Regions from separate parts of the Homo sapiens genome. Here all the other regions are linked to region 3. Evidence: fine-mapped expression QTL. A gene starts in region 3. Each other region holds a variant in brackets. All regions are shown on one strand. Distances are between the middles of the regions.

What was found. PIP is the estimated chance that this variant, and not a neighbour inherited with it, causes the effect. A credible set is the group of variants that fine-mapping cannot tell apart.
Region 1: its variant is the best candidate, but not a certain one, in a credible set for the expression of SACS in skeletal muscle (GTEx, PIP 0.62).
Region 2: its variant is the best candidate, but not a certain one, in a credible set for the expression of SACS in cerebellum (GTEx, PIP 0.88).
Region 4: its variant is the best candidate, but not a certain one, in a credible set for the expression of SACS in whole blood (TOPMed, PIP 0.88).

The regions. Positions count from the first base shown.
Region 1 is chr13:23,323,203-23,329,654 of GRCh38, forward strand. SGCG (sarcoglycan gamma) reads left to right here. Exons shown (of 8, transcript NM_000231.3): 8 at 1,166-1,960. The coding sequence ends at 1,339. LOC107984585 (a long non-coding RNA gene) reads right to left here and starts at 1,171. Exons shown (of 2, transcript XR_001749787.2): 1 at 1-1,171. It overlaps SACS (sacsin molecular chaperone), which reads right to left. Exons shown (of 10, transcript NM_014363.6): 10 at 5,628-6,452. The variant T/C (reference allele first, on the strand shown) is at 1,634.
Region 2 is chr13:23,929,671-23,937,887 of GRCh38, forward strand. It overlaps the pseudogene ANKRD20A19P. Among named protein-coding and RNA genes, the nearest start is that of C1QTNF9B, 36 kb to the left of the region's middle. The variant G/A (reference allele first, on the strand shown) is at 4,175.
Region 3 is chr13:23,429,429-23,437,645 of GRCh38, forward strand. It overlaps SACS (sacsin molecular chaperone), which reads right to left and starts at 4,274. Exons shown (of 10, transcript NM_014363.6): 1 at 4,187-4,274. RefSeq lists an enhancer at 3,526-4,093.
Region 4 is chr13:23,349,113-23,357,329 of GRCh38, forward strand. It overlaps SACS (sacsin molecular chaperone), which reads right to left. Exons shown (of 10, transcript NM_014363.6): 8 at 5,407-6,895; 9 at 4,673-4,764. Among named protein-coding and RNA genes, the nearest start is that of SACS-AS1, 66 kb to the right of the region's middle. The variant G/A (reference allele first, on the strand shown) is at 3,399.

The sequences.
Region 1 (6,452 bases), 110 kb before region 3:
GCAGAGAAATGCAGAAATAAAAATCAAGAATGAGGCGTTAGATAATAACCTAAAGATTCTACTTGAAAAACATATTAACAGCTATTTGACTTCTTTGACCGTGACTGCACCAGACCATGCACGGCACAGAGCTGCCTGCAATGCTGTGGGGTCGTGTGATCAAGCCTCACCTGGCAGGTGCACACCGGCGAATGCGTGCAGCAGACAGCAGGTTGTTAATAGATTGGAAGGCAAGGATAAGAGCCACATAACATAAAGGAAGGAGCTCTCCTTGGCAAGGACAGAATTATGCCTACCCACATTCAGTTTAATTCCTTGTAACAAGTGAGTGCCCTGGAGTGGGCAACGTTTGGCTGCTGGATGTGACGATTTTTATTTCCTTATCAAAAAGATTTCCAAGCCTCAATCTACGGCTCTTTGTTTGCACTTCAGTTTAACTAAATTATCATATGACCAGAATATCCAGTAGTTTTCATTTCATTTTAATTGGCTTAGTCTGCGTGTCTACTGCTTTTCAGCATCTAATAGGAGGCTGTGCAGTTTCAAATAATATATAAAAATTAGGGAAATGGTTGCCAGCTAATAGGATGAATTTAATTGCCTCTCATAGGAAAACAAAATCAGGAATAAAATCAGGATAAACTTCATCATTCATGGGTAAAAATTATTAAGATGAATCTATTCTAATGGATTGTACTTTATCCTAATGGGGAGGAGAGGATTTACATAAAGTCAAAGTGAGTCACAAGATAAATGTGAATCGGGAGAATTCTAATATGTTTGACAAATAATTCTGAAAGGCGTTTTGAGAAGCATAGCATCACAAAACTGAAAAGCAACCCAGTTTATTGAAACAAAAACAAACTGTAAAGGTGAAACATGTTTTCACAATGGGGCCACATTTCTCAGCTGCACTCAAACAATGACAAACCGGAAAAGCGCCTCCCTCCAATGTGGAAGGAATTGTGAAGTCCCAGCCTGCATGTAAAATAGAACTGGGCTTTAAAAGAATCGGATAATTACGAAATGAGTTACATAAAGTCAGGTGCCTATTTTGTTTTCTATGAGGAGAAGAAACTAATTGGAAATCTTGTGAGAATGGGGATTTGCTGCTGACCAGGGTGGCCCTTCCTTAACTCTTCGTCTCTCATCTTCTCCCAACCAGCTTGTGCTTGATGCTGAAACTGTGTGCTTACCCAAGCTGGTGCAGGGGACGTGGGGTCCCTCTGGCAGCTCACAGAGCCTCTACGAAATCTGTGTGTGTCCAGATGGGAAGCTGTACCTGTCTGTGGCCGGTGTGAGCACCACGTGCCAGGAGCACAACCACATCTGCCTCTGAGCTGCCTGCGTCCTCTCGGTGAGCTGTGCAGTGCCGGCCCCAGATCCTCACACCCAGGGAGCAGCTGCACATCGTGAAAGACTGAGGCAGCGTGGATGGGAAGTAAACGCTTCCAGAGGAACTCAGAAAAAATTATGTGCCAGTGAAAGTGTTTGGACAAAAACTACATGATCTCAAAATGCACGTGGATGTGAGACACAAAAGTTGACAAAATGGAAAAGCAATGTGTTTTTCCACTGGATTAATTTTCACCGGAACAATTGCGAATTCTCTCTGCCTCGCCTCCCCCTATCT[T/C]GTCCGTGTGGGCACACACTGAGTGTTGAGTTGCCGTGTGGAGTTAATGTATGACGCTCCACTGTGGATATCTAATGCCCTGTTGAGAGTAGCCTTGCTCAGTACTAAAATGCCCCAAAGTTCTATACAGCATTTCCTTTATAGCATTCAAACCTCACATCCTCCCTTCAGTTTAATGCAAGTAAGTCAGGTTTCACAAGAAAATTTTCAAGTTTTGAAGGGAATTTGAGGTTGATCTGGTTTTCAAGATGTAGTTAAAGGAATAAATCACTCAAAATTAAACTTTCTGTATATAGTCAATAAGCAATAAAAACCTCATTTTTCAGAGTTCACAGTTTAAGAGTGTCTTTTTTAATCCTCACAAATCTTTGAGGTAGCTATTATTTTTCCCCAAGTTACTGGTGACAAAGGCTCAGGTAGAACAAGTCACAAGGTCACATGGTAACTACTGAAATTAAACCAAAATGTAACCCTAAATTTACATAGCTCTTTTCACTTTGAAAAAGTTTCATGTGCTGTCTCCAAAACACCCGTCTATGTGATAATTGTACAGCACTTATTTGACAAACAAAGAAACTGAAGCCCAAAGAGGTTTTGTCTCTACCAAGATCAAAGGGCTAGTCTGTGGTACTTGCCTCCACATGATAGACACAAGTCTGGACGTAACTTCATAGAAACAAGACACTCAGAGCTTGTGAACATGTTTAGTGCCAATTGGCTGTGTAAGGTGCTATAGAAATCAAATAGGACACACTGAACCTCTGAAGACAGGTTCGTTTTGTGTAGGCCACCCACTCACTTTGTAAAATGCCCTCTATCACAAAAAGTGGTGCATTTGTTTTTGTTTTACTTATTATAAGAAGAATCTTCAAATAGGTGTAGGGAGACCAACAGCACTGCAACTTTCTAATGATATGACATATTAATAACTATCAATATAAGTTCAAATTCATTTTCCATAGTCTCAGAATCAAGAGAAAGTACAAAAGTGAACTCTATTCCTAATGCTTAGTAAGATGTTCATTTAACAGCATAGCCTGCTCATAACAACTCCCTGATGTTTAAATGGCCAGAATGCATAAACACTTGAAATTGCAAAATAAAAATACAGTGCTTTCCAAGCAGTTAAGAGCAAACTCAACTCAGTGTAATTCACATTTCACAGGCAGTTGGGTGCTTTTACTTATAAATTGATATTTACCTTTTTCCATTTGGTTGAGTCCTGAGTAAACTGCTTTCTTACTGTGACATTCCTATTGTCATAGTAAATGGTTCCTGGTATTTTGTTCCCTGTTTGTGCGAAATATGTCTTCAAGCCCAGCTGATAAAACACGGGATCACTAGATCACTAAACATTTATAAACTAGCTTGGTTCTCATATTATGTGTCCAAAAATTTGTGTGTAGATGATAAAGTGAGGTAAATAAAAATAGTCAAGTAGAAAGTGTGGAGAACAGAACCTTTTGAATAAAAGGTTTAAATTCTATTTTTTTATCCTTAGCTATATGGAATAATGTTGAAAGAAGTTGTTACAGATAAATGCATTCTCCACAATAAGGAATTTATCCTTCATTAGAATCAAAGCTTTTAGATGAGCTGTATTCTAAAATGCATTACATATATCTGTCTTATTAAACATATAAATTTTCATTGAAGGCATACAGTCATGGTTATAAACGTACATCACGGGGTATATAGACTGATACTCCTATAGACTATTGAGTGTTGCTACATTAGGGATCTAAAAATAGCACTCATTTATTTCCCAGTTTATGAACTGACAAGTAGATACAGTCAAAAAGATGAAGATCAAAATCTACTACTATTATGCTTTAATAATAAAGATAGTGGTCCAGGTGCGGTGGCTCACGCCTGTAATCCCAGCACTTTGGCAGGCCGAGGCAGGCAGATCACGAGCTCAGCAGATCGAGACCATCCTGGCTAACACGGTGAAACCCCATCTCTATTAAAAATACAAAAAATTAGCTGGGCGTGGTGGCGGGTGCCTGTAGTCCCAGCTACTCAGGAGGCTGAGGCAGGAGATTTGCTTGAACCCAGGAGGTGGAGGTTGCAATGAGCTGAGATTGTGCCACTGCACTCCAGCCTGGGCAACAGAGTGAGACTCCATCTCAAAAAAATAAATAAATAAAATAAAAAATAATGATAAAGATAGCTGGTTTGCAGCAAAATGGACTTCCTAATAACTTCACAGCTGAATAAAACACAAACCACTCTGGTCACAGGCAGAACTAAAGGCTCCCAACTTCTATAACTGCTACATGAGGAGGATGGACAGATGCCTTCTCTGAAAGCAGTCAAATTCACATTAGAAGAGTCAAGCCATGTGTGTTGGGTTCCCCCCGCCAACCCCCACTAGGTCATCCAAAAACTTCAGTCTGTGCTCCTATGGGAAACAGGGAATGAGGGTAGAAGCTCTTCTGAACGAGCAGAATTTTGTGCACGATGGTTTTCAGATTGTGTCTGCTGATGCAGCTTTGTGTCCCCTTCGATTTGAAACATCGCCTCTTACTTGGCTTTAGCAGTCTTCTTCACATAGTAAATTCCACTTCAAATATGCTTCTATATGCTATTTTCTACCAGCACTATATAAATGTCATCCTTGAGATCTACAAAACATTTAAACTACCAAAAATGTCAACTGGCACCAATGAAAGAAATAAATCCTACTCATCCCAAAATCAGACCTGTGAACAACTCAGACCTGTGAACAACTCCTCTTCATTCTGTTAAATACTATTTTAAGATTTTTCCCAAATCATTTTTGGGCTCTCGGCACTCCCTGCTCCGTTAACGAATTGTATGGTGCAAGTTTTTCACTTGTTTCCTCCCGGAGACTATGAACAATCGAGCCATCCCTCTGGGGATGCCCTGTCCCTGTCCCTGGAGCCTCTGCAGCAAAGACCCTGTTCACGAGTGCAGAAGCTGCTCCATCCCTTTCCTAGACTGCATGCTACTCAGGAGCAGCTGATCCACACAGCAGTAGACAGCTTCCTTTCTCTTTTTAAAAGAAGCAAACTATGGAAGAGGGTGGAGGAAGCGTAAAATAACAAAATAGTTCAGGTCCAAAATTCCTTATCCTCAATTTCAGTATCTAAAAAGCTTGAAAAAGTGAAAATTTTCAAATAAGTCTGCTGTAAACTATTGGTGGCAAAAGCTGATTCAAATTACATAAGGCTATTGATCAGGTCTGTGTATTCAATTTACTGTGAACCCTCATAGCCTTAACTGCAGAAATACTAATGCGTTTGATTACAGGTACAGCCTGTCCCTGGTGGGAGCACTTCATTAAAAAGTTATATATAATTGTATTAACTTTCTAAAATCAAATTATGAGGGGTTTTTTTTTGCCTGGAAAAACACAAAACTCCAACTAGATCAACTATCAAGGCCAAATGAGGTTTTCTGTGTAAATTTTAATATTCAAAAGCAATAAAATCTAAATGCTGAATTGAAGCTTCGAAGTAGCAAGTACTTTAAATAAAGCTGAAGGCACAGAATTCAGGTAGCTCCAGAACAGAGAGCACTCTTAGCCCTCATCTGCCTAACTCTGAAGACTTGTGCCTCAACTATAAAGATGAAGAACTCCTATCTGTCAGTAATAAAGTGTGAATTAGTCCCAGACATGCAGCTGTCCCTGAGGCAATGGAAATATCAATTCAGCTCTACCTAGAGGAAAAAAATATTTAATGTATCTGTTTCCAAACACATATATACCACATATATCAGCTAATCTGATTCCCTAAAAAGGTGACATAAACTCAACTAAATCAATGAGCACCTAAACCTAGTATATAACAAGCACTTCATATTCTATTAATCCTAAAAATCTATAATTCCAGCATGAAAATATACAGGAAAATATTTTCCTAATATTTCCAATAAATACACACATACACACACATTAAAACTTAATATTAAGATGTTAAGTTTGATTTCCAATGAACTATTTCTCAGGAAACACCCATTACGATGATTTCATATGTACATTTTCCTTTATTAAAAGTATGGCACTTTATATAACAGCAGAAATAATTACATGATTTCACATCCAGAAGCAATAAAATGTGGAGGTGCAAACATTCCTTATTCCCAATAAAAGTAAAAAAAGTTTCAACATGTTCTGTAAGCCCTTAATTGCATAAAGTATATTTAGCATCATTTACAGCCAGTACACTTATATAAACTAATTATCATTACCTTTTACATTCTGCAAAAGAAATATGTTAAAGTAAAGAAGCATGGCGAGACAAACATGAATTAAATGTCAGTTCTGATCATTCATGGGGAAATATAAGCCGATAATTATAAACTACTAGATAACACAATGATTTTAACAATTTTTGATGTTTTTAAAGTTAAAAAAACTCCACTACATGCCATATTGAAAGAAAAGGTTGTTTTTTTTTTAACTGCAGCACCTTTAGACAACAAAAGATTGCATCCTGTTCAACCACACTATATAAATTATAACATTTGTGGAAAATATGTACACACAAACATAAAGCAAGTGTTCTAACAGTTAATAAATGTTGTCTTGGCAAGCAGTTTCCAGAAACAATACTAACAACTGGTAATAAGAACTGCCACCATTTTGAGTTTTCCGTTGCTATCTTCATCAAACAGGAAGCCTGTAAACATAAGATGTTAAAAAAAAATTTAAATAAAGATGTAAAGTGCACTCAGTGCACTCTAAAAAGTACTACCTTCACACTCTTAGTCAAGTAATAGGATTAAAATACTCTACCATTTCTTAAATGCACTGAGTACAACATAAAATTACAACAAATTCATGATCAGA
Region 2 (8,217 bases), 500 kb after region 3:
GCCGGCAGACACATATTTTCAAAGTAACACAGAGCCAAGCAAGCACATGCAATGTACTTCACACAAATTCACCCATTAGGTAAATCTTCCCTCCCCTCCAAAGAAAGATAGACAGAGTGTAAGTTCTCATTTGGAAACTTAAGGCCAGGGAAATGAAGATTCTCATATCATTTCTGTGTGGATTTAAATTATGATAGAAATTAAGCCAATGTCTTAATTTCTATGTACCAACTATCGATAACAGGTTGTATGTACCAACTATCGGTAACAGGTTGGATAGAAGTATACTAGATGGTAAAGAGAAATGTGTCTTACGTTTTCAATTTTGCTGTGAATAACCCACAATGTGGATAATTCTTTTGTTGATTGATTTTAGTAAACCAACTCTTATTTGGATAAATATATAGTTCTGTTAAAGAAACAGCTGAATTTCTCTAATTCAGCTTGCCTGGTTCAACTGAAGTTTTCCTCCTTCAAGTTCCCTTTTCTGTAAAATATTTTTGTTCTTTACAAAATAAATTGAGTAGTGACTGCAACTAACAAAGATGTATTAACAGTTGTTTGTTAATTTTTATTCATGACTTCAGAAATCATAACTTAGCTAGAGAACTACCTTTTATGTCTCTTACCCAAACGTGATTGAGTTACATGACAGTTTTACATATGCATTTTCCCTGAGTTATATTTAAAAATCTATACATTTTTCCTGAATACGCAGGAAGTAGCTGGCATAAACTTCAAGTTCAGTAAGAAAACTTAAAGCCCTTTCTTGGGTTGGAGCTAATGGGCTTAATGACCATAGGCAAGCTATAATCTCTCTGAGACTGTGTTACCTTGTACGTAAAATTAAAAAGTTTGACTAAATGACTTTCATAACTGAAAATTTTTTTAGAATAAAACTTTTATTTGTAAAAAGCTACATGAAGGAATTATATATATACACACATTTTATATGTGTATATATTTTATATGTGTGTATATATACATATTTCATATTTTATGTGCATATATACATATTTCATATTTTATGTGCATATATATACGTTTCATATGTATACATATAAAATACATATACATATATGTATATTACATACAAGTCATGTAAAAATGTACATTTTACATAGTGTTCATTAATGATAATATAACATTCTTTCAATAAAGGCTTCTCCCTTTACCTGGTATTGAGTTATCACTTTTTTTTTTTTTTGAGACGGAGTCTCGCTCTGTCGCCCAGGCTGGAGTGCAGTGGCGCCATCTCCGCTCACTGCAAGCTCCGCCTCCCGGGTTCACGCCATTCTCCTGCCTCAGCCTCCCAAGTAGCTCGGACTACAGGCGCCCGCCACCATGCCCTAATTTTTTGTATTTTTGGTAGAGAGGGGATTTCACCGTGTTAGCCAGGATGGTCTCGATCTCCTGATCTCGTGATCTGCCTGCCTTGGCCTCCCAAAGTGCTGGGATTACAGGCATGAGCCACCACGCCTGGTCGAGTTATTACTTTTATAAAACCTTTCTTGTAATGCCATTGTCATGTCATTAATTTTATAAGGGCTGTCTATAATGTTATAATCACAGAAAGATTATGGAAAACTGTCTCTCAAAATATTGGGAAAGCTATTAGTCAAAAATTTGTAAAGGCATTGTATATCATATTGTCATTATCACCAAAAAGTCTTATGTTTAGTAAACAATTTCAGATTCTTTTCTGGGCATTCAGTGAGGGAATACCTTTTGCACCAAAGATTTAAATAAAACACTAGATGGGAGACACTTGCAATATAATTTGAAGTATCCCCACAATTTCATAACTAAGTAGATAACTATAGTTAGCTAGATGTTTCAAAAATTGGTTCTAATTTCTGAAAAGCTTAAAAGAGCTATATACAAATATAGAGCTATATATTGTTTCTTTGTTTCTAATTCTAACAGGTCATGAAATAAACCAAGTTTGTAAACTGGTTCTAATATATATTTTTTTCAAGTGAAATTTCCAAAATCTTTTTTTCCATATGAATAAAAATGTTAGTTGTAATACAGATAGAATAATATGATTACTTAATATTTTACCAGTAGAATTTTCACATATTATGACAGTACCACTTTCTTCAGGTACATATTTAAGATTCTGTCCTGAAAAGTTAATAACATGGAATGTATCTAAAATTTTAATTTTCTAAAGGAGGAGAACGGAAAGTTTATTTTAAGGAGAAATCTACCAAAATGAAAAGAAAACACAGATTGAATTCTTATAAAGGGCAGGCAGAGTTTTGCTAAGAATTAGAAAATAATGCATTTGTTGCAAACTATGAGTCGATTTGCTTAACCTTTGTAACTAGTAAAAGAAAACCTCACTCTTCTGAAAGATGTACATTCAGTAGACCAAGGTTAATTGTAACTTTTATCAGACTAATGTCAACAGCATTACACATATATATTCTCTTTTATCTAAACTTAAAATAAGTAGGAATTTTATTTTATTTATGTAGTTAATTTTTCTATTTAGGCAATCCTCAAGTTAGGTCTCGTCTCTACAAGTAGGAGAGATGACATTTTGTAAGTGATATATCATTTCCATGGTAATTTCTCTTGTGTAACTTAAACATTATAAATATTTGGCTTATTTCAGATTCAGCAAGGATTGATAGAAAATAAAACTAGAGAAATAGAAGAAGGTATATTGCCAAAATTTATTAACTAAATTTAGCTTGATTACTGAAATAAACTGTAAATAGCAAATGGCTTTCCTCTCCATTGTCTGGTTCATAAATGCTACAGTAAGTATTTTTTCTTATGCACATTTAATGAAAGATAGAAACACATACTCATAATGAAGAGTATACTTTTGCCTCATTAATTTATCATGTTCCATAGCTTTAAAAAGGTCTCAAAAAGTCTAAGTATCTCTTTTGTTTTGGCTCTACATAGTCTTCACTTCTGCCATCCCTATGGAACTGTCAGGCAGCACGCTGAAACTGAATTCAGGAAACAAAGTCGTCATCTTCTTAAAGTCATAGTAGTAATTTAAGGCCAAAAGACCAGAGTCATCTGATAATACTTAGCCAAGCAATTACAGTTCAAAAACAGTTATTTGACAGATGACATTCTAAATCTCCAATTATTTACTTTGTCATTGGTTTACTTTTGTGCTCAGGAAATGCTCTAAGTTGCTTGGCATGCAGTGAAAACATCTCCATCAACTTGGTTCTTGTCAAGTTATTCAGCCTTGTCTTTTGCCACATACCCTACTCTACCCTTGTGCTCTAGCATCCAGCCAAACTAGACTACATAGATTTCCACAGTGCTCTTGCTCATCTCTTTGCATTTGCTTCTGCCCTCTGTCATACTTTTTCCTTGTTTTTCAGATATGAACCTATATAGTGCCTCCACCAAAAAGCCTGCAATATTGCAATATTGACACAAAACTGGGATAGGTGTCCCTTCTGTGTGTTCCAATAGTGTCGTGTTGTATACCTGTCATGTTATCTATGATTCTGTAAGGAAATTGCCTGTTTGTTTTTTCAAGTTGTAGCATATGATTTTTGAGGAGTGAACTGATCATCTTCATCTTGTCATTCCAGTGCTTATTGTCACATGGTTGCTGAATACAGGAATGAAGGGTGAGAAAACTAGAAGCTCTGGTACTTAACCACAGTGATAGTCAATTCAAAGCACACCTACGGGCAGATTATATTCAATATTAAATAGTTAATTTTGTATTGTGGTCATACATATTTTTCCTTCCTATTGACACAGATAAATTTCTCAACTTTTTTTTTACTGACTGACACTTAGCTAACTGTGAAATATTTTAGGTAAAGAACATCATTCTTTCATTTTCCTTCCAGGTGCTGCTGAATTTGAATCTGAGTCCTCTATATGGAATCTATCCTCTTCTGCAGGATCTACTCAGGATCTGCTGATGAGTTACATCTAAATCAAGTTTGAAAAGCATCATGAGAATATGCAACAATTTTTTTTTTTTTTGAGATGGAGTTTCACTCGTTTTGACCAGGCTGGAGTGCAATGGCTGGATCTCAGCTCACTGCAACCTCTGCCTCCCGGGCTCAAGTGATTCTCCTGCCTCAACCTCCGAAGTAGCTGGGATTATAGGTGTGCGCCACCATGCCCAGCTCATTTTGTATTTTTAGTAGAGACAGAGTTTCACCATGTTGGTCAG[G/A]CTGGTCTCAAACTCCTGACCTCAGGTGATCCTCCCGCCTCGGTCTCCCAAACTGCTGGGATTACAGGCGTGAGCCACCGCGCCTGGCCGAAAATATGCAACAATTTTAAGAAAAATTACTTAATGCATTCAGACCCGTGGATTGCATTTAGTTCTTCTGTCTCTTAGACTTCGTCTGGAGCAGTTCCTCAGTTTTCCCTTGACCTTATGACCTTGAATCTTTCAAAGAGTAAAGTCCAGTAATGTAGAATGTTCGACAATTGGGTTTATCTGATGTTTCATTGTGATTAGATTTAAATTATACTTTTTAAAAAATTCAACTTTTAGTTCCAGGGAGTACATGTGCAGCTTTGTTACATGAGTATATTGCATCATGCTGAGGTCTGGGGTACAAAGAGATTTTACATTTTTGGTAAAGTGTATCACAGAAGTGATCCTGTAATCGTCTCACTGCATCTTACCATGTGTCCTACAATTTTGATTTGTCCTGTTAATTAATATCTTGTGGGGAGGTAATTTGAAACTACGTAAGTATCTCTTCCTCATAAAACCTTCAATTTATTCATTTACTTGTATCAATAAGGATTCATGGGTTATTTTCTCCAATAGTGTATAATTTGTTAATTTTTAAAAAACTTTTCTTTTAAGAAATGTTATATTTTGACAATTTCAGACTTTTTAATACAATGTCATGACTTCTTTACTTCTTGGGAGCCTTCCAGCATCAATGGTGGCACTCTGTATGGGTCCCGTGGTGTTATTTGACTCCACAGTATTGCATTAAAAACAATGAAAAATATGTAAGAACCATAAATCATCACTTTTTCCCATGAGACACAATTTCTTGGATGGATGAACTGCTCATGTGGAGATGATTAGCATCACAAAGCATTTTAAGGAAATACTTGCAACAGTTCTGCTCACTGCAGTACCACAGGTGGCTATGAAATCATTCCAGTAGTACAGTGTACACTATAGTTAATTTTACGCAGTTATGGTTTAATGCTGCATCTTTGTTTGTTTACCTTTCTCTTGGCTGTGAATGGTGCCACATACCATGTGTAAATTTTAATAAATCGTATTTTTTATAATAGATTATATATATTTTATGGTAGTAATGATGAAATACATGAGTATCTACATATATATTATGCATTCATGACATAACTTTTTCTTAACTTGTTTATCTCTAGGCTATGCAGCTCATCTATAAGCTGTTTCAAATTGTCACAAATCTCCAAAAAAAATTTCAGTCTATTTATTGAAATAAAAAGCTGCTTGTAAGTAGACTCATGCAGTTCAAACCATGTTGTTCAAGGGTCAACTATATTTGTAATTCCCTTTTCTGACACAACCTGGCTCCCTTCATCCTTAGTATATAGTAAGTCCTCACTTAACATGATTTAATAGGTCTTCTTGGAAAATAAGTGGAAGATGTGAAACGAAACCAGTTTTAACTGTAGGCTAACTGATATAAACAAAAGATCTGTTCCTATGACACATTTCTGGCCAAAAAACATCACCAAACATGTCAATACAGACAAAAACACTTGTAATATTAAACATTAAAATGAATGCTAGCTCTGCATACATTTAAGGAAGAGTAATAGATACCATTCATCCAATTTTTGGTGAATCAGTGAGTGATGGCGATTGTAGTGGCAGTGGGTTAAATCAAGAAATGAATGCTGGCAAGGTGCATTTTGTAAGAATCACCTCCTACCTCCATGCAGTCAGAACCAATCACAAATATGGCAGGTTCATGAAGCACTTTTGTACCAAATCGTTGTGTATTGCAACATCTGTGATTATCATGGACTTCACAAATTTTTATTTTATAGTAATTTGCACTCATTTATTTGTTCCTTGTCCAACATGCTTATTCCAGTTCAGGGTAGCAGAGGACTGGAACCTATCTAGTGGCTCAGGGCCCCAGGTGGGAACCAACTCTGGACATGCTATTGTACAGTGCACTCACACACACCCGCAGTCACTCACACTGGGACCATTTAGACATGTCAGTTAACCTGTGCCCAGTTTTGGGATGTGGGAGGAAACCAGAGTATCTGGAGAAAACCCAGGCAGACATGGGGAAAACGTGTAAACTCCATACACACAGTGGCTTTGGCCAGTATATATATTTTTGTCATCAATGTTATAACAAAATGACATTATTCCAGGACTTGCTGTTATTTATTCATTTCATCTCCTGTGTGTAACCAATCTCCTGTGTCCTTGCTCCTACGTAGGTATACTCTTCACTCCCACTTGGGACTCTTGCACCTTTCATTGGTTGCCTCCACCAATTTTCCTTCCAAATGGATGCCATCTTCACCCCATCCTTCCTCAAACACCCTGTCCCAGGCTGCCCTCTTAGGTAGATGACTTATCCTTACCCCCCTAAGATGCTGAAGACCCATTTTTCATCCATCTGTGGGTGGCTCCTGATATTGTTCAGTCTTTGATACCTCAATTTCTTTTGTCTACCTTGCAGAAATGCTCTCAACTGTCTTCCAGCACTGTGCAGGGTGACACTCTGACACTTAGGCCCTTCGCATTTAATTCATGCCACAATCCCTAACTCTGGGTCAACACAATTCCCTGTTTTGTCCCCATACTTGTGAGCTGAAATATTCAGGAAGATAAAGGAGGAAAGAACTTCACATACATTTTATAGTCAAAACGCTGAGTTTACAAAGCAAGGGTTTTGACTGGAATTGCACTGAATGTATAATTTAGAAAGAGAAGGCGTAATATTGTTTCCCCAAACTATTAACATTTTAACAGTCTATCTTATTAACTCTCAAAGTTTAAGAAATTTCTCATAGAGGTTGTGCATATATTTTTTAGATTCCTAAATATCTCATACCTTTTCTATCTACTCAGAAGGCTGAGATGCGAGGATCACTTGACCCAAGGAACTTGTCGCTTCAGTGAGCTATGATTTTACCATTTCCTTCCAGTGTTACAGAGCAAGATGCTGTCAAAAAAAAAAAAAAAAAAAAGAGCCAGGTATGGCGGCTCATGCCTGTAATCCCAGCACTTTGGGAGGTGAAGGAAAATGGACCACCAGACGTCAGTAGCTTGAAACCGGCCCAGTCAACATGGTGAAACCCTGCCTCCACTAAAAACACAAAAAGAAGCAGGGCCACCGTGATGGCAGTGTAATCCCAGCTACTTGGGAGGCTGAGGCAGGAGAACTGCTTGAACCTGAGGGGGTTGGGGTTGGAGGTGGAGGTTGCAATGAGCTGAGGAGCTGAGAGAGCACCACTGCACTCCAGCCTGGGCAACAAAGTAAGACTCCATTTAAAAAAAAAACATATAATCATTTCAGTAGACGATGAAAACAATAAAATTCAACGTACCTTTATGATAAAAACTCAACAAAATGTGCAAGAAGGAACATATCTCAGCATAATAAAGGCCATATATGATAAACCCACAGCTAACATCATGATCAATGCAGAAAAGTTAAAAAAGCTCTTCCTAAGATCTGGAACAAGTGTGGTTACTTTTACCACTTTCATTCATCATAGTGCTGGAAGTCCTAGCTACAGCAATTAGACAGGAAAATACAATAAAAGGCATCCAAATTGGAAAAAAAAAGGAAGTCAAATTGTCTCTGTTTGCAGCTGATATGATCATATGTAAAGAACCCTAAAAATTCCACCAAAAAAACCTACTAGATAAATTTAGTAAAGTTGCAAGATACAATATCAACATACAAAAATGAGTAGCACACCCATGCACCAATAGTGAAACACCTATGAAAGAAATCAAGAAAGCTATTTCATTATAAAAAATGATACGTAAGGACAAACAACCAAAAAGGTGAAAGATCCCACAATGAAAACCATAAAACATAGATGAAAGATAGTAAAGCAGACACAAGTAAATGGAAAGATATCTCATGTTCATGCACTAGAAGAATATTGTTAAAATATCTATATCACCCAGTGTGATCTACAGGATCAATGCAACCCATGTTAAATTACAAAAGACATTCTTCACAGAAATAGAAAAAAAAAAACCTAAAATTCACA
Region 3 (8,217 bases):
ATCGGCTCACTGCAAGCTCCGCCTCCCGGGTTCACGCCATTCTCCTGCCTCAGCCTCCTGAGTAACTGGGACTACAGGCGCCCGCCACCATGCCCGGCTAATTTTTTTGTATTTTTAGTAGAGACGGGGTTTCACCGTGTTAGCCAGGATGGTCTCGATCTCCTGACCTCGTGATCTGCCCACCTGGCCCTCCCAAAGTGCTGGGATTACAGGCGTGAGCCACCGTGCCAGGCCCGAGGTAGGGATTTTTAACCTATCATGAATCCCATTTAAGAAGGAGGAAGCTGAGGCTGCAAGAGGTTAAGTGTCAGAACTAGTATGATGTGGAGCCAGGTTCCAAAACCCAGTATATCTTCCTCCAAATACATTAAAATCTTGGGTACTTTTTATTACTATTCTTAGCAGGGACTCTCAGGAATATGACAGTAAAATGAACATAGATCTGTTCTTTGTAATCAGGATTGTCTCTGGATGGTCACTTAGCATAAACATTTAATATAATATTGGCTGGGCTCACGCCTGTAATCCCAGCACTTTGGGAGGCTGAAGTGGGCAGATCACTGGAGATCAGGAGTTCAGGACCAGCCTGGGCAACATGGTGAAACTCCGTCTCTACTAAAAATACAAAAATTAGCCGGACGTGGTAGCAGTCACTTGTAATCCCAGCCACTCGAGAGGCTGAGGCAGGAGAATCACTGGAACCCGGGAAGTGGAGGTTGCAGTGAGCCGAGATTGCACCACTGGCCTCCAGCCTGGGTGACAGAGTTAGACAACATCTCAAAAAAAAAAAATTAATAAATAAAACTAAAGGAATATTTGGTGTAATTGACAAAAAACTCATAAAGATTGGTTGTAATTTATGTTTGAAGCTTAAAGACCTAACAAACTAATATCCTTAAGCTCTAAGTAACTATCATTGATCAAGTAAAGCTCTGTTTATATCATATTGCCAAATTTAGCAAATAAAAATTATAAATATAAACATATACACCTTAAGTTTGAGTTTCAGATAAACCACGAATTATTTTTTAGTATGTTTATGTCTTATGCAATATTTTTTGTATTTAATCTTGTAATCCTATCAGGGTTTTTAAATGGTGAAATTTATCATTGCATTAAAAACAAGGAAAAAGGCTAAAGTAGTACTATGTGAAAATGTGCACAAATTCTAGATACGTATAGAATTCAAATACTCCTTTCTAGCACTTAGTACTTTAATGAGGTAAGGATTTAAATGATCACCAATAATTATATTAGGATGGCTTTGATTTATTTTTAAATGTCATTTCAGAACACATTAAAAGGCTATGTGGACTGTAGAGCCCTTATTTTCTGCCCCAGATGACAAACTCATGGTGTAATCTCGAGCAGAATATTTAAAACAAATGTTTGTCTGGATGTAAGGTTATTATAATTGGACCACAGATCTCTCCTGACAAAACCCAGAACCAACGTGTCACCTTGGGTTTCACATCGTCGTCAATTTGAAGTGCCTTGAGGGGGATACCATGGTAGGAACAGAGCTCAGAGTTCAGTCTGAGAACTCAGTGATGCTCCCCAAGGGAATCGAGTCTTACCATCTAGTCAGTCTCTCCTTTTACTAATAAGAAATACTTGGGGTTCTACTCTCTCTTAAGGTTGCATTTTGTAATCTGCAAAATGGGGCTGCCTGTTTCATAAGGCTATTGTAAGAATCAATGAGATAAAAGCATTTAATTTGATCAAATAATTGTTGTAAACTGAGGCTACCCCAAAGAGAGCTATCTGAATCATCTAGTCAGAACCTGAAGGAAATTGAAAGATTATTCTATGTCTCTTGCCTTAGAGATGGCGTTAAAAGGCTTTCTAATTAGCACAAAGAGAAGTCAAAGCAGGGCTGGAGCCACACCCTTTGGTCCCCAATCCAGTGCTTTTCCCAACTTCGCTATGTTCCCCCTTAGGTAGGGGTGAAACGGCCTCTCCTAGACGTTAAAATCTTACACAATATCCTGAGTGTGAGTTAAGGAAAGGAAAGACGGCAGGAGAAAGACACATAAAGTAGAAATTAAAATAGTAACAGGATTGTCATTGCAAAGAGCAAATTGCCACCCAGGCTGTCCAAGATCAGAATAGCAATGGGAATTGTCCTGACTTCCAATTTGGCATCCTCTGCATCAATCACATTTAGTAGTCCTCATGTAGGCTCATGGTGGGAGTGGTCAATATCATCATCACTGCTGCTGTCTTAAAGGATTTAGGAAGAGTTGTACAAAGAGAATCGGCCTTCCTTCTTCCAAAGAATACTCCTATGGCAACATGGAAACATCAGCGTTCCTTTTATAGACAAGAGGGCTTAGAACAGTGTTTCGTGCATAGCAAGAACTGAATATGTATTTTGTACTGATCAGGACTCATTCAGATGCACTCAGCCAAAAGTTCATTTCAAAATTTATTCCTTTTGGGAAATGGTGCATGAACCACTTTAGCATGCTTCACCATGGTGGTTAGGTAGATGGTGGACTGAGTGAGAAAACGACAAAACTCTTACTAAATAGTGACACTGTGTGAAGAACCCTGCTAGGCGCCTTCATACAAATCACCTGGTTTCAACCCTGTGACCATTAAGTGAATAATTGTGTCATCTCTGACACAGGAGGGAACTGAGGCTCACAGAAGTTATGTGGATTGTCAGGGGCTGCAGAGTAAGGATGTGGTAGACCTGAGATTGGAACCCGGGGCTTCTGGGGGCAAGTCCTGCGTAAAGCAATGGTTTTGAGATGCTTCAGATGTAAGCAAACCTTGGTCTTCAAGTTCTATAATTGGACTTTTCTTCCTATTATGTGAAGAATAGAAAACACTTAATCGTGGAAAAGTTCTTATAAACCAAGTAAGATTAAAGGAAAATAGGGTATGTAGAAAATCTGGCTTGCTTTGTTTGAAAGGGAGACTGAAGGAGTCTTTAAGATCCAAGGAGAAAAGAAAGAAAAAATTGCCCAAACAGCCCAGGAAGGAGAAGAAAGGATGAAAGGGACGGCTAAGGAGGATAGAGGAAAGGAAACTGGGGATCGTTGTCACAGCCCAAAGTGAGGCTTCAGGGCAAGATTAGGGAAGGCAGTCTGGATGGTCATAAGTAAAACTACTGGGACATCATGACCCTGCATTAACGTAGAATGAGTCTGGTTATCAATGGGCAGCTTAAGAAAAACAGAATGGCAAATCTACTTGTCATGTGACAAATAAAATGGGATTGTCAATTATTTATTATTATTATTATTATTTTCATCCATGACCTGTGAATCAATTACTTTTATCTGCACTGATGGAGAAATGAAGAGTTCCCCTTCAAAATAACTTCAGAGCAGCTTGCGCTTGGGAAGCACGTGGATTCAACCTGGCTTCTGCCTTTTACTTAAGCGGAATGGGCTTTATCCATCTTCAGGGGCAGAGAGAATTAAGATTAAAGCCAAAACAATTGATATGTTTTAATAGAAACAAATCCAGTCCTCTTCTCTGAGGTATTGACCTCGTTTTAAGGAAGAAAAAAAGACAGCGAGAGAGAGGTTTTGTTGCTAAAGCTGGAATACTCTTTCAAAGAATCTAATGATCGCTTATTAGAATAAAATTAAATATGTGAAATATTTTTTAACTAAAAGCAGGATTTTCAAATATTATATAAGATAACCATAACATATGGCATTGTTTGAAGGCATGCTGTTTAAAGTGAGAGCAATTCTGCAAATTAACCGTAAGCTACTTTGAGAATCCCATCTTATTGTTCAATAAGACTCTGGACCCCACGCTGTGTTACTGCAACAGCTCCATTGTGGCGGTGCCTGGCAACCCGGGTGGAAATTAAAATGACAAAGCGGCTAGTCCAGCATCTTGACCGCGGCAGATCTCTCTAGTCACCCTGCAGCCGCTCCTCACCCACAAATTCACAAGCAGCCAACCCAAACTGTACATTTTCAGAAGAGCTCATTACTCACAGCTGTACAGCACGCTGAAGGCCCTCTCGTCTCTGTCCTCTCCGAAGGCGGGTATGTTAAAGGAAAGTGGCCCCTTACCTCCCCCAAGCAGCTGCAGTGGCCGAGCCCTGGTTTCCCAAGGCTCAGGGGACGGATGGCCAACAACACCATGGAGCCTGCCCGTCCCCAGGCCGCTCCTGCAGCTGCCCTCGCTGGCCACCCAGCTGGAACCTTGGACTTACTGGGGGCTGTGGGCATCAGGGTCTCTCGGCCTTTGTTTTCCTCCAGTGCCATCAGCAGTTCCCAGCGTGACTGTCCCGCAGCCGCACTGGGTCCAGGCGGCTCCTGCCGCAGTCAGTCGCTCCCCCTACCCAGCAGCCTTTTTTTTTCTTCTTAAAGAGACAGGACTGTCATCAACCTTAGGTGTCAATAATGCTGCAAGTGCAGCATTGTCGTTCATTGTGGGGGTGACAACCAACCACACGTTTTTGTTCTCTTCACTTGCAAAGGCTAATTTTTAGCAGTAGGTATGGCTAACAGAAGACTGGCTCTATTAAACACCAGTTGTGTGACCTTAGACAAGTCACTCATGGGTCTCGAGTACCTCATGGGAAATGAAGACCTGTGACCTGGTAATGTTGTAGCTCACAATCTGCTTTTTGTATGTTATTTGGAGTTGTTTATGAGGTTCCAATGGTTAAAAAAAAAAGCATTCACTCAAAATGTGTGGTAAACTGTGAAATGCTATACAATTGATCCTGTTCTAAGTTGAAATTGCTAGTCTCAATTTAATAATACAAAATATTGTAACTCTATTTTCTTGCTTCCTCTGATGGGGTATGTGAAATACCACCAGCATTTATTTCATTTCGGCGCACAGCTATCCTGCCACTGGCCTGGGTACATCATATTCCTCATGATAGTCTCCTAGTAGAACTGCCTGCTTTATCCATATAAATCTAGAATTTTGGCTTATCTGGAAATACTGGATCTCGGAAGCTTCTTATTGCTTCGTTCCTGCGGAAAATTCCTCTTAAGTCAGTTCAAACAACTCCAGACCTGAAAAGGCTCAAATGATCTCTCCTGGGAGAAGACCAAAGCAAGCCCCAAATGTCAGCAGCAACTGGGGAAGGAGAGCCCCTGCTTCTTGTACCTGGCCCTGCACTGGTCTGACCCAGAAGATGCCACATCTAATGGTGTCTCCTTCACATCCTAGACTCACAGATTTGTGTACATATTATTTCCTGGGAGATAGGTGGGAGACCTGTTCTAACAAAAGGACTGAATAATCACAAACAAAGCACATTTCTATTGGGGAGAAATGGTGTCTTGCAGGGCCTTTTCATTGAGCTCTCACTGTAGCACCGTGTGGACCAACAGGCCCTCGGTGGCATGCGCCTGTGGAGTGAGGCTGCCTCTCTGAGGCTACCACCATTCTTACATGGTTCAGTTGTAATCAGTTTAATTCAGCACACAAATATTGAGCCCTTGCTTGTTCCTGGCATCAGCTAGACACCGTAGACTAAACGGTGAATACCCAGTATGTTGCTCCCCCAGCAGGCTCTTCTACTCACAGCTGTAAACCATTACACCCCCAAAGGGAAAAGTTATAAATAACTACATATATATAAACTATATATATAATATATATGTATAGTTTTCAGAGAGGTTAGACGATTTTGCCTACCTACTCACACTACATAAAAGTATCCAGTGAAATATTGATTATTCAGAAATAGTGTTGCTTAGCCAGGTGTGGTGGTACATGCCTGTAGTCCTAGCAACTCAGGAGGCTGAGGAAGGAGGATTGCTTGAGGCCGGGAGTTTGAGACCAGCCTGAGCAACATAGCAAGACCTCAGGTTGGGCGCAATGGCTCACGCCTGTAATCCCAACACTTTGGGAGGCCGAGGTGGGTGGATCACTTGAGGCCAGGAGTTCAAGACCAGCCTGGCCAACATGATGAAACCCCATCTCTACTAAAAATACAAAAATTAGCTGGGTGCAGTGGTGTGCACCTGTAATCTCAGATACTTGGAGGCTAAGGCAGGAGAATTGCTTGCACCTGGGAGGCAGAGGTTGCAGTGAGCTGAGATTGTGCCACTGCACTCCAACCTAAACAACAGAGTGAGACCCTGTCCCAAAAAAACAAAAACAAACATAGCAAGACTTCATCTCTACAAAAATTAAAAAATTAAGCAGGCATTGGTCGTGCATGCCTGCAGTCCTAGCTACTCGGGAGACTGAGGTGGGAGGATCACTTGAGCCCAGGAGTTTAAGGTTACAGTGAGCTATGATTGCACCACTGCACACCAGCCTGGGCGACAGAGTAGACCTCATCTCTAAAATTAAAAAAAAAAAAGACAAAAAATAGTGTTGCAATGTAGAAGTCAAAGCTTAAATACCCTTGTGAGCACTGCCTGTGATACACCTTGTTACTGTTACAACAAATTGCATGTGTTTATATGTGACTTTCTACACATTTGGAAGGTGATTTCATGTGCATTGCAAGCCCTTCACTATGCCACTGTCCAGATACAATGGCACATGAAATAAACCATATGAGTTCATTTACACTTATGGTGCCATTTATGCTATTGGAATGTTGTTGTCAAAAGATTTAGACTTTGTCCTAAAAATTTAAGAAAGCAAAGATTTCTGGATAATTCATGAACCACAGATCTTCCACATTCTGGGCAAAGATTGACCGTTAACATACCCAAGTCAGAGGTCAATCTGTCTGTGATGGTTAATTTTAGGTGTCAACTTGACTGGGCTAAGGAATACCCAGATAGCTGGTAAAGCATCCTCTCTGGGTGTGTCTGTGAGGGTGTCTGCCAAAGAGACTAGCGTTTGAATTACTAGACTGGGTAAAGAAGCTCTGCTGTCACCCATGTAGACGGACATCATCCCACATGAGGGCCCAGATAGAGAACCAAAAGTCAGAGGAAGAACAAATTCTCTCCCTCTCTCTCCTTGAGCTGGTACATCCCATCTTCTCCTACCTTGGACATCAGAGGTCCTGGTTCTCAGATCTTCAGACTCCAGGACTTACACCAGCACCCCACCTCATTCTCAGGCCTTTGGCCTTCTACTAGGATTTACACCATCAGCTCGCCTGGTTCTCAGGCAGTCAGACTCAGACTGAATCACACCAACAGCTTTCCTTGTTCTCCAGCTTGCAGATGGCAGATCAGGAGACTTACTGGCTTCCACAAGCACATGAGCCAATTTCCATAATAAATCCCTTCTTACATATCTATAAATATCTTTAGTTCTGTTTCTCTGGAGAACCCTAAGTCAATGTCTCCACCTTACCCTAAGCTGAGCCTAGAACATGAGAAAATATGACCTGGTGCCACGGCTGTCCAGAACCACAAAAGTGCAGCTAGAGGATGAGTCTCTGCCACTTGTCCAGAGGTTTCAAAGAGCTGCTGCAATATGCTGACTCCTTCCCCTGGATCCTCCCAGCTGCTGCTCCTACCGTGCCAGTCTTTCGTTCCAGCCATATCACGTGGCCAAAGCTCTGCTCACATGTGGCCTGGAGACCACATGGTTTTCTTGGCCTCTTCCTCAATCTGTATGAGGGTCAGATTTTATCAACTCAGAAAGGTTAGCAGCTCAACCTGAATGATACAAGCTAAGTCTCGGCATCTAGTCATAGTTTTGGAGTCTTAGCTTCTGTATCTGTGATGGTTAATATTGAGTGTCAACTTGATTGGATTGAAGGCTGCAAAGTATTGTTCCTGGGTGTGTCTGTGAGGGTGTTGCCAAAGGAGATTAACATTTTAGTCAGTGGCAGAGGCAGATCCACCGTCAATCTGGGTGGGCACAGTCTAATTAGCTGCCAGAGTAGCTAGGATAAAAGCAGGCAGAGGAATGTGGAAAGATTAGACTGGCTTAGTCTTCTAGCCTACATCTTTCTCCAGTGCTGAATGCTTCCTACCCATGAATATTGAACCCCAAGTTCTTCAGCTTTGGGACTCTTGGACCTTTGGCCACAGACCAAAGACCAGGAGTCTACGCACTGTTGGCTTCCCTACTTTTGAGGTTTTGGGACTCGGACTGGCTTCCTTGCTCCTCAGCTTGCAGATGGCCTATTGTGGGACCTCACTTTGTGATCGTGTGAGTCAATACTCCTTAATAAGTTCCCTTTTATATATACATCTATCCTATTAATTCTGTCCCTCTAGAGAACCCTGACCAATATCACCGGTTTTACTAACTCACTGGCACATCATGCCAGCATGCTCAATAGTAATGATTGCTCTTGTC
Region 4 (8,217 bases), 80 kb before region 3:
CAGCAGGAGGGTGACATGATCAGATGAAGCCCAAGCGCTGTAGACAGGGACATCAACTGCAAGAGTCCAGTAACAACATTACGAGAAATTAGAGGACCTGTAATAGGCAGTGGAGTAAGACCAAGGGACTGGCACAGAAAATTTAGTCAACAGATCCTGGAGACTGTGGGGAACAAAGAAGAAAATTTAAGGATTCATTCTTGAGCAATCTTGTGGACAGTAGTGTTATTTTCAGTGGGATCACTCAAAATGAGAAACAGATTTGGGGAGAGGATGAAGACTAAAGTTTTGCAATATTGATTTTGAAATACTTATGGGATTCCAAGTGCAAAATGCTAACAATAGCTACCATTTGTCAGTATTATATTAAGTGCCGGATATTATGTTAAACTATATGTATTACGTATTCATCATTCGATCTTCAGCATAATGCCTGCTGTGAGTAAAATATTACAATGAAGCTTTCAATAACCTGATCTGCTGCAATAACACAAACTTGGATACAACTCAACTGGCAAGGTGTGGTTGCTCCCATCCTCTGCTCAATCCTTATTTCATTATCCTTGCAGTGAAGCAATCCTGAATTTTCTGTAATCAAATCCTGGGGACCTTGAGATATACCCTTAGAAGGATAGTACTGTATTACCATGTTACTGATGAGGAAACAGGGGCTCAGAGAGGGTAGAAAATTTGTTCAAAGTCACACAATAGAGGAGTGAAGTTTAAGCCCAGATCTGGGTAACTACAAAATCCAGGTTTTTAATCTCTGCTACACTACCTCTCTGAAGACTAGGGTGGTGACTGAAGATATGGTGGTCACTAACACTTTCATGGGAGTGGATGAATGTATTCAAGGAAAGGAACAAAGTAAAAGAGCTGAGGAAGGAGCCCCCACACTAACACGTATTTAGGGAGTGAAGTGAGGAACAGAGGTTCACAAATAATTCTGAGAAGCAGGCAAAATCAGTGAATGCCAAGAAGGAATGGTATCATCATGGCTGAGGGCTTCAAAGAGGAATACCAAGCTTCTGGGAGATCAGGTAAAAGAAACAGAAAAATCCACTGAGCTGAGTAACAGAAAAATCATTAACTAGTGACGTCAGCCAGACTATTTTAGTGGAATGACAGTGGAAGCAAAAGTCTGTTTGGAGTGATAATAAATAAGGAGGAAGTACAGACAATAAGACAACTCTTTCCGGAAGCTGGACTATGATAGAATACAAGAAAGAAAATCAAGGTGGAGGTCTGTTTTGTTTTTCCTGAAATGAAATATAGTGAAACATATTTAACTGCTAATAAAAGGGGCAGTAGAAGTAAACACTAAAAATACAAGCAGTAGCTCAATATTTAGCTAAGGATTTTAAATGTAATACAAGGAAAAGGTACAATTATTAAATAATGTGACAAATTTTGTTTGAGCTACAGAATTAGAGGAAAAGTTTCCATATCAGAAAAAACATATGATGTTTCCATTTTATGCAGTAGTACTTCCAAGACTGGCCAATCAGTGTTTACTGATCACTCATAAACAGAATTCCATAGTGCTCTGTGTCAGCAAAGCAATGGAGTAATCATTATGTAGAGCAAAAAATATCAAATGTAGTTACATGTCTGTGATGCTCCCTACCATATATGAAGGGGGCTCCATAAACATAATACTCCGCCTTTCTTCTCCTGTACTCACTAATTCCCCCAATAGGCCCCATACCACCAGAAAGCAAGATGACTTACATGATTGGTAAGTTGAGAAAAAGCATCTGCACATGCTCAGCAGGACTCAAAGGGACAGATGTTTAGTAGGGGCAGGACCTCTGGAAGGAAGTCTGTGGCTTTCCAGGGCTACCTGTGACTAGACTGGTGAGCTAATCCATTTCACTCTGGGAGTCAATAGAAATCCAATGCCTGCCACAGCTATAATCTCCAATATCACAATAATCAGTGACAGAGGTGGCTTCTGACATCCATCTGCTCAATCCCTCTGCTATGTCTTCACTATGTCTTCACTGACTCACAACTCAGGAAAGGAAAGCAAGGTGTCACTTACTGGTTCCCCGTAAGGCCCTATATCATCATGCTCTCAAAACATTAAAACCATTAATGGCAATAAAGTTATATCAAAAACTAATTTTTGTCTGGAACACACAGATAAAAATAAGTGGGAAGATACCCATATGACTGGTTTAAAAAAGTTTAAAGGCTAGTGATATGGTTTGGCTGTGTCCCCACCCAAATCTCATCTTGACTTGTAACTCCCATAATTCCCATGTGTTGTGGGAAGGACCCGGTGGGAGATAATTGAATCATAGGGGTGGTGTTCTCGTGGTAGCGAATACTGTTCTCATGGTACTGACTAAGTCTCAAGAGCTGATAGTTTTATAAGGGAAAACCCCCTTCTCTTGGCTTTCCTTCTCTTTTTGCCTGCCGCCAAGTAAGATGTGGCTTTAGCCTTCTGCCATGATTCTAAGGTCTCCCCAGCCATGTGGAACTGTGAGTCCATTAAACTTCTTTTTATTTACAAATTACCCAGTCTCAAGTATGTTTTTATCAGCAGCATGAAAACAGACTAATACAGCTAGTTATGAGGGTTATTAAATAATCATGAAAATAGTAGCCTAACTCTTAAATCTAGATAAAGAAAAGTGACCATCAAGACAATTTCTGGGAGTGCTAACCCACACATGATGTGTGATTAACAGAAACACTAGATGAACATCTAGTGTCACAATGCCAAGAAAACTAACCAAGACCAGAGACAAAACACAGTGTTTCATTATGACACCAAAATAACAACTTGAATCCATAGTAGAGAAAATGAAGACATATAAAAGTGGGAAAATGCAACTTTGAAAGATGTCAAGTTTTCTATATTAATTTATACATTTAACTCATCCCTAAAAATATAACAGGTTTGCCCCATCCACCCAGGGCTAGAGAAGCAAGTTGTAGCCACACTCTGTGCCACAAGATATTTGGAAAATGCTGAGCAAAAACAGAATGCTCTGCTGACCTTCTACCCTTCTCACCTGATTTGGCCCTGAATAACTTTTGGCCGATTTCCAAATCCACATCCACCTTAGAAAGGATCTGCCACCAACAAAAATATTTTCTTTAAAAGAAAGTAATAAACCACACAGTAAAATACCGTAACAATCAGAAAGAACTGTTAACAGCTCCATGCAACAATCTGGATGAATCTCACCAGCATCACAGCAAATAAAAGCCAGACGCAGAATATATGCCACATGGCTCCTTCTATACAAAGCATGATTAACTAGCAAAGTGAATCTATGCTGTTAAAGCCAGTGTCATGGCTACCCTGGAATGGTCAGACTGAAAAAGGCAAGAGAGGGGCTTTTGGGGCTGGTAATCTTCTGTGTAATCTTCTGGTAATCTTCTGC[G/A]TTCTGATCTAGGTTTACATGGGTATGTTCAGATGGTAAAATTTCACTAAGCCTACATTTATGATATGTGCACTGTTCTATATGCATCTTATATTTCAACACAAAATTTTAACAAAAATATAATACAACATTAAAAAAAAAGGAGTTCCAAATCGTTAGAGCAAAGATTGGCAGGCTTATAGGAATCCAGGCTTAGACTTTCAAAAAGGTTGTTTTGAAGATGACAATTACAATTAAATGAGTAACTCAGACGTTTGAAAAGTCAGTCTCACAGCTACCAACTCATAGATGCAAATCCCTGATGGGAAACAACATTTGCCTACTCATTTTCTTTTACTCTCACTTTAACTCCAACCTAACTTGCCTCTCCCATTCCAACTCATTTCACTTATATTTTAATGAATAAAGGTGTACAATGATTAGCAACTTTCCCTAAGCCATTATCCTGGACAAGAAAAAAGTACATTCCATAAAAGACACATCACAGAGTATGCTTGACAATGTGAACAGCAGGACAAACCCAGAACTTTTCAGGACAACATCTCACTTAGAAAAAGCTCAGGTAACAGTTTCACAAGGAAAAGGATGCTTGCAGAAGTTGAAAGGTAGTATTAAAATTAGAACCATGTTGACTGTTTTCCCAAAATTACTGTCTTTTCCTAAAAGGACACCTATCAGACACCCATCACTTTAAGACCCCCGCAAGACCCTTTTCCTGCCCCTGTTACAGAGTTAATTGGATTTGTCCACACTTCCCAGAAGCTGATCAAGCCTAATGCAAACCCAGCATCATAACTACATAAAACCATGGAGGGGCAGTGGTGTCAGAAATAGAGCAAGGACAGGGCAAGTGGAAGACCTGACCTCTCGGCACTTGGCTGGTGGTCTTGATCTTAACCTTTCTCTCTCCTCTTCTGTGAAATTTAATAATCACTGTCATTACCAAACAAGCTACAAGTTATGCTGGGAGGCTCAAATGAAAAAAGAAATGGGAAAGCACTGGAAAACTGTAAAGCACCATGCAGGTATAAGATGTTGACTACACCATCACACCATGACAGGAGAGATTTTTACACTTATCACCTCTGGATTCTTTTAGACAGCATCTCTTAGATGCCATTCTGGCAACTGAAATATCTTAAAACACAAAAAGTTTATTAGCTTGAGCCATAAGAAATTGTTGATTTATAGGTCTAAAATGAATAACAGAAAACTTTTAAAAAACTTGTATTTTTATATAGAAGTTTATTTAAAAGAATACTAAACTATAATACCTCGGGTTTGGGCAGCTTCCTTTAAAGCAGCCACAAGGTGAGGTTTCAAGTTATCCAAAATAAATCTTCCTTCAAGACTTGGGAAAAGGGACCTGAAAAGGGAAAGGAACAGCAATCATCATAATCTTCCCACAATTCCAAGATTTTAAAAAAACAATCACATATTTTCAAGTCAGTTAAGCCGACTATTTTATTTTACATAAATTATAATGCACACATCAAATCAAATTACAATATTTTTGATCAAATATTATCTAGACTTTGCTTTAAAACGTGAAGGCATCATGTACTTTACTCAAATTCAGAAATATTCTCAACATCTTACAGTAAAATTAATTTTATTTCCTGAAATGTCAGTACACTCTCGTTTATAAAGAATTACTTAATATACTATTTTTCATGAATTTAAATATTATCAAAATAATTCATTAGTGACTAATCTGGCCTTGTTATTATTTGCACTTTATAAACATTGTTTTCAGTGTTCTGCTATTGAAATTTCCAAGAAAAACAGCTGCTTAGATAACTTTTCAACTGATAAACATTTGAATACTTTTTCATTTTAGAATATAAAATGTATCCTTTGGTATTTTAACAATGTATTTCTGCAAAAGTCTTCCTAACTATAAAATCGACATAGAAAACCATTGAATTTCACAACAAAGGACTCTCACAGTGAGCAGGAGCAGGGGAACCCTAAGAGTGAACAGGAATGTTAGAAGGGGGACCCCTACCTTGGATATTCTGCTGAGGTAATATAAATGACATCTTGGTCTGATACAGATGAGGAGAAGGGGACAAAATTGCCATTTTGTAAAGGGAGCAGCTCCAGCCCAAGCAGCTCACTGTAGGCTTGGTCAGAAAGCACAAATTCTAGAAGGTGAAGCTTTTCTTCAGCACAGCCCAGGTGTGCACACTTCCGCAGCACCTGCCGCACCCACGCGGGCGTCACCTTCCTCACAGGTGTTGTGCCAGAGGCAGCTGTGAGCTGAACAGCAGCATCCACATTCCCTGGTACCTTGGCAATCTGCTTCCCTGAGCTCTGGAGGTAGTTGAGCACAGTTTTTGTGTATTCTAAATTTTCATCAAGTTCTGAGAAGTACACCTGCTCCAACCTGACCCAGTCACAGCTAATTGAATAAATCACTGCATTCTGCAACAGCTCGCTGAATAGAGGCTCTAACACCGGTTGCCAGTGCACCTTGACTTTGCTCGCCTCCGGCCAAAGCTTATAGATAACATCAACTGACAAGGGGAAATCAGAGCTCTTTTCCATCTCCAGACGTTTTATTGAATCTAAGATCAGAGTAGCATAAGCTTTGGGGACAACATTCATGACAAGAAACTCATTCCATAAGGCTGCCGGGTCTCTCCACTGGTCCAGCTCTCTCCATTTTATGCTCCTGCGGTTATCAGTAAGGCCAAAGAACCCACTGATGTGAACTGGGAGGCCTGTGCTGCTTTCCTCACCAGGTGGTAAAGGAAGGAAACAAAATGCTTTTCCTGAGAAATCAGACGTTGCTCCTTTTGCTTCATCATCTCTGCTTGATAAAGGCATGGCTATTCCAATGATTGGGACAAATTTCAGTTCATCAGCTAAAGAGTCAAGCTTACTACTGATCCCTCGCCCACCCACACTGTTACACACCAACCAAGATGTTTTCTGTGCATCCTTAGTACTCTCCTCTTCTAAAACAATATTTACGTGATATGTTACACAGGTGATGTTATTGCTTGGAGTCTTTTTACAATAGTTACTTATAGCAGTTCCCAGAATCTTTATAGAATTCGGCCGCTCATGTTTCAGTGCCTTACTCTCACTCGAAGTCACTCTAAACACCAGTTTCTCTGTTCCGTCAGCCTCTCGGACATATAAGGAAACATCCTGCACACTTTTCAGAAAGAGCAGCACTGTGTCTGCATCTGCCCTAAAAGACTCAAACAACTCAAGAACCTTCTGCTTATTGTAGAGGTTACTACTAAGTTGTGAAGGTTGTAGGCGAAGAGGGAAACGGAAAAATGTTCCTGGAAAATTGCCGTTTATAAATGTTTCCTTGGTGCTTCCAAAAATGCCAACAAATGGTGCAAACTGGTCTGAAAGTTCACTAATTTCTTTGCTGTCATCTTTGAGATTCCAACATTGGCCTGATTCATGTGGGCCAAAAAGTGTTTGATGAGGATCTAGCATCCCGATTTGGTCACCACTAAAGATACAAGGAACATCTGTAAAGAAAAATTTAAGTCATGATCAACTCTGAAATTTTAGGGACAATTATGATTACAATTATAATAAATATATGAAAAAGCATGAGCCATTAAATGACTAAAACAGATTTATCTAAACACAAACTTAATTTACCTTCAGAAATGTAATTCTCTGAACATGAAAAATGATTTCTCTTTTGATTCAATCCAATAACAAATGCCAGGCATAGAGACTTTGCATGATTACTGTGAAAACCTAGGAGACATCTTCAAAAACTCACTACACAAAAGATGGGCAGAGTATTTGGATATATACACTTAACCCCCACCACCATGTGAGCCCAATTCGACAGAACAGGACTGCATCCTATGCTCAACTTTACAAATTCAGCATAGACTCTGTAAGAAGAGACAGAGAGCAGTACAATGCAGGTGACTCTGCCCACTGTGTTGCTCAGTGAGTGCCTGCCCTGAAGCTCATGAGGTACATTCCCTCAAGGGGTCTTAACCTCTCTGCCTCTGGAGCGGAAGCACTTCTCTTGCTGGGAGCATCTCACCACGTGGAGCCTAATTACAGTATTGAAAGATACCCATCTTTTGTATAACATGGCCTCTAAATTGATACCAGCTGCTTCACCTGTTCCTCAACCAAGGACAGAGTAGTATTCAAAAACTGGCAGAAAAACCAGATGTGTGAGACCCACTGTGATGAGAGAAATTCCTCCCCAGTGTGCTTTGGTGAAGATCTCCCAAGGGTGATGTGATGTATGCTTGCCTCACATGCTTACTTAGCACCTGGGTTTCCTGCAAGATGCAACTCCAGTGAAGTCAATCTTTAATACCTACGGTCGTCAAGCACAGCTTCAGCTGTCACAATCACCAACTCCCAAGCTTGTGGGTATTTTAAGTTAGCAAATGTTATGTCCACCAACCACATGGCTAAATCCATGGACAGTGGGGTCTAGGGAATGCTCAACCCTGCTCCCAAGGCACAGAGTCGCACCCCCATGAATGAAATCAGGCCAGGTGGCTCCTGACAAGATAAAAGCATGACCTATGACCTATGACCTTCTCAAATCCTTGGTTTAGAGAAGAGTCCTCCAGTTAATGTTCCACACAAATGTGCTTATTCTCAATGAGCAATCAAAACCACACTGAGATGCAGGTGCTGGGCAATTAGCTGGGCTCTCACGCCACAGTTCATTCCTGCTTAAGCCTCCAGGCTTTTGCTACTCACATCTGTGTCCCACAACATTTACAAACTACTACATGGCACAGACTTGTGGGATAACTTACAAAGAGGTGGACACGAGTATTAATATTCATAGATAATAGTCATA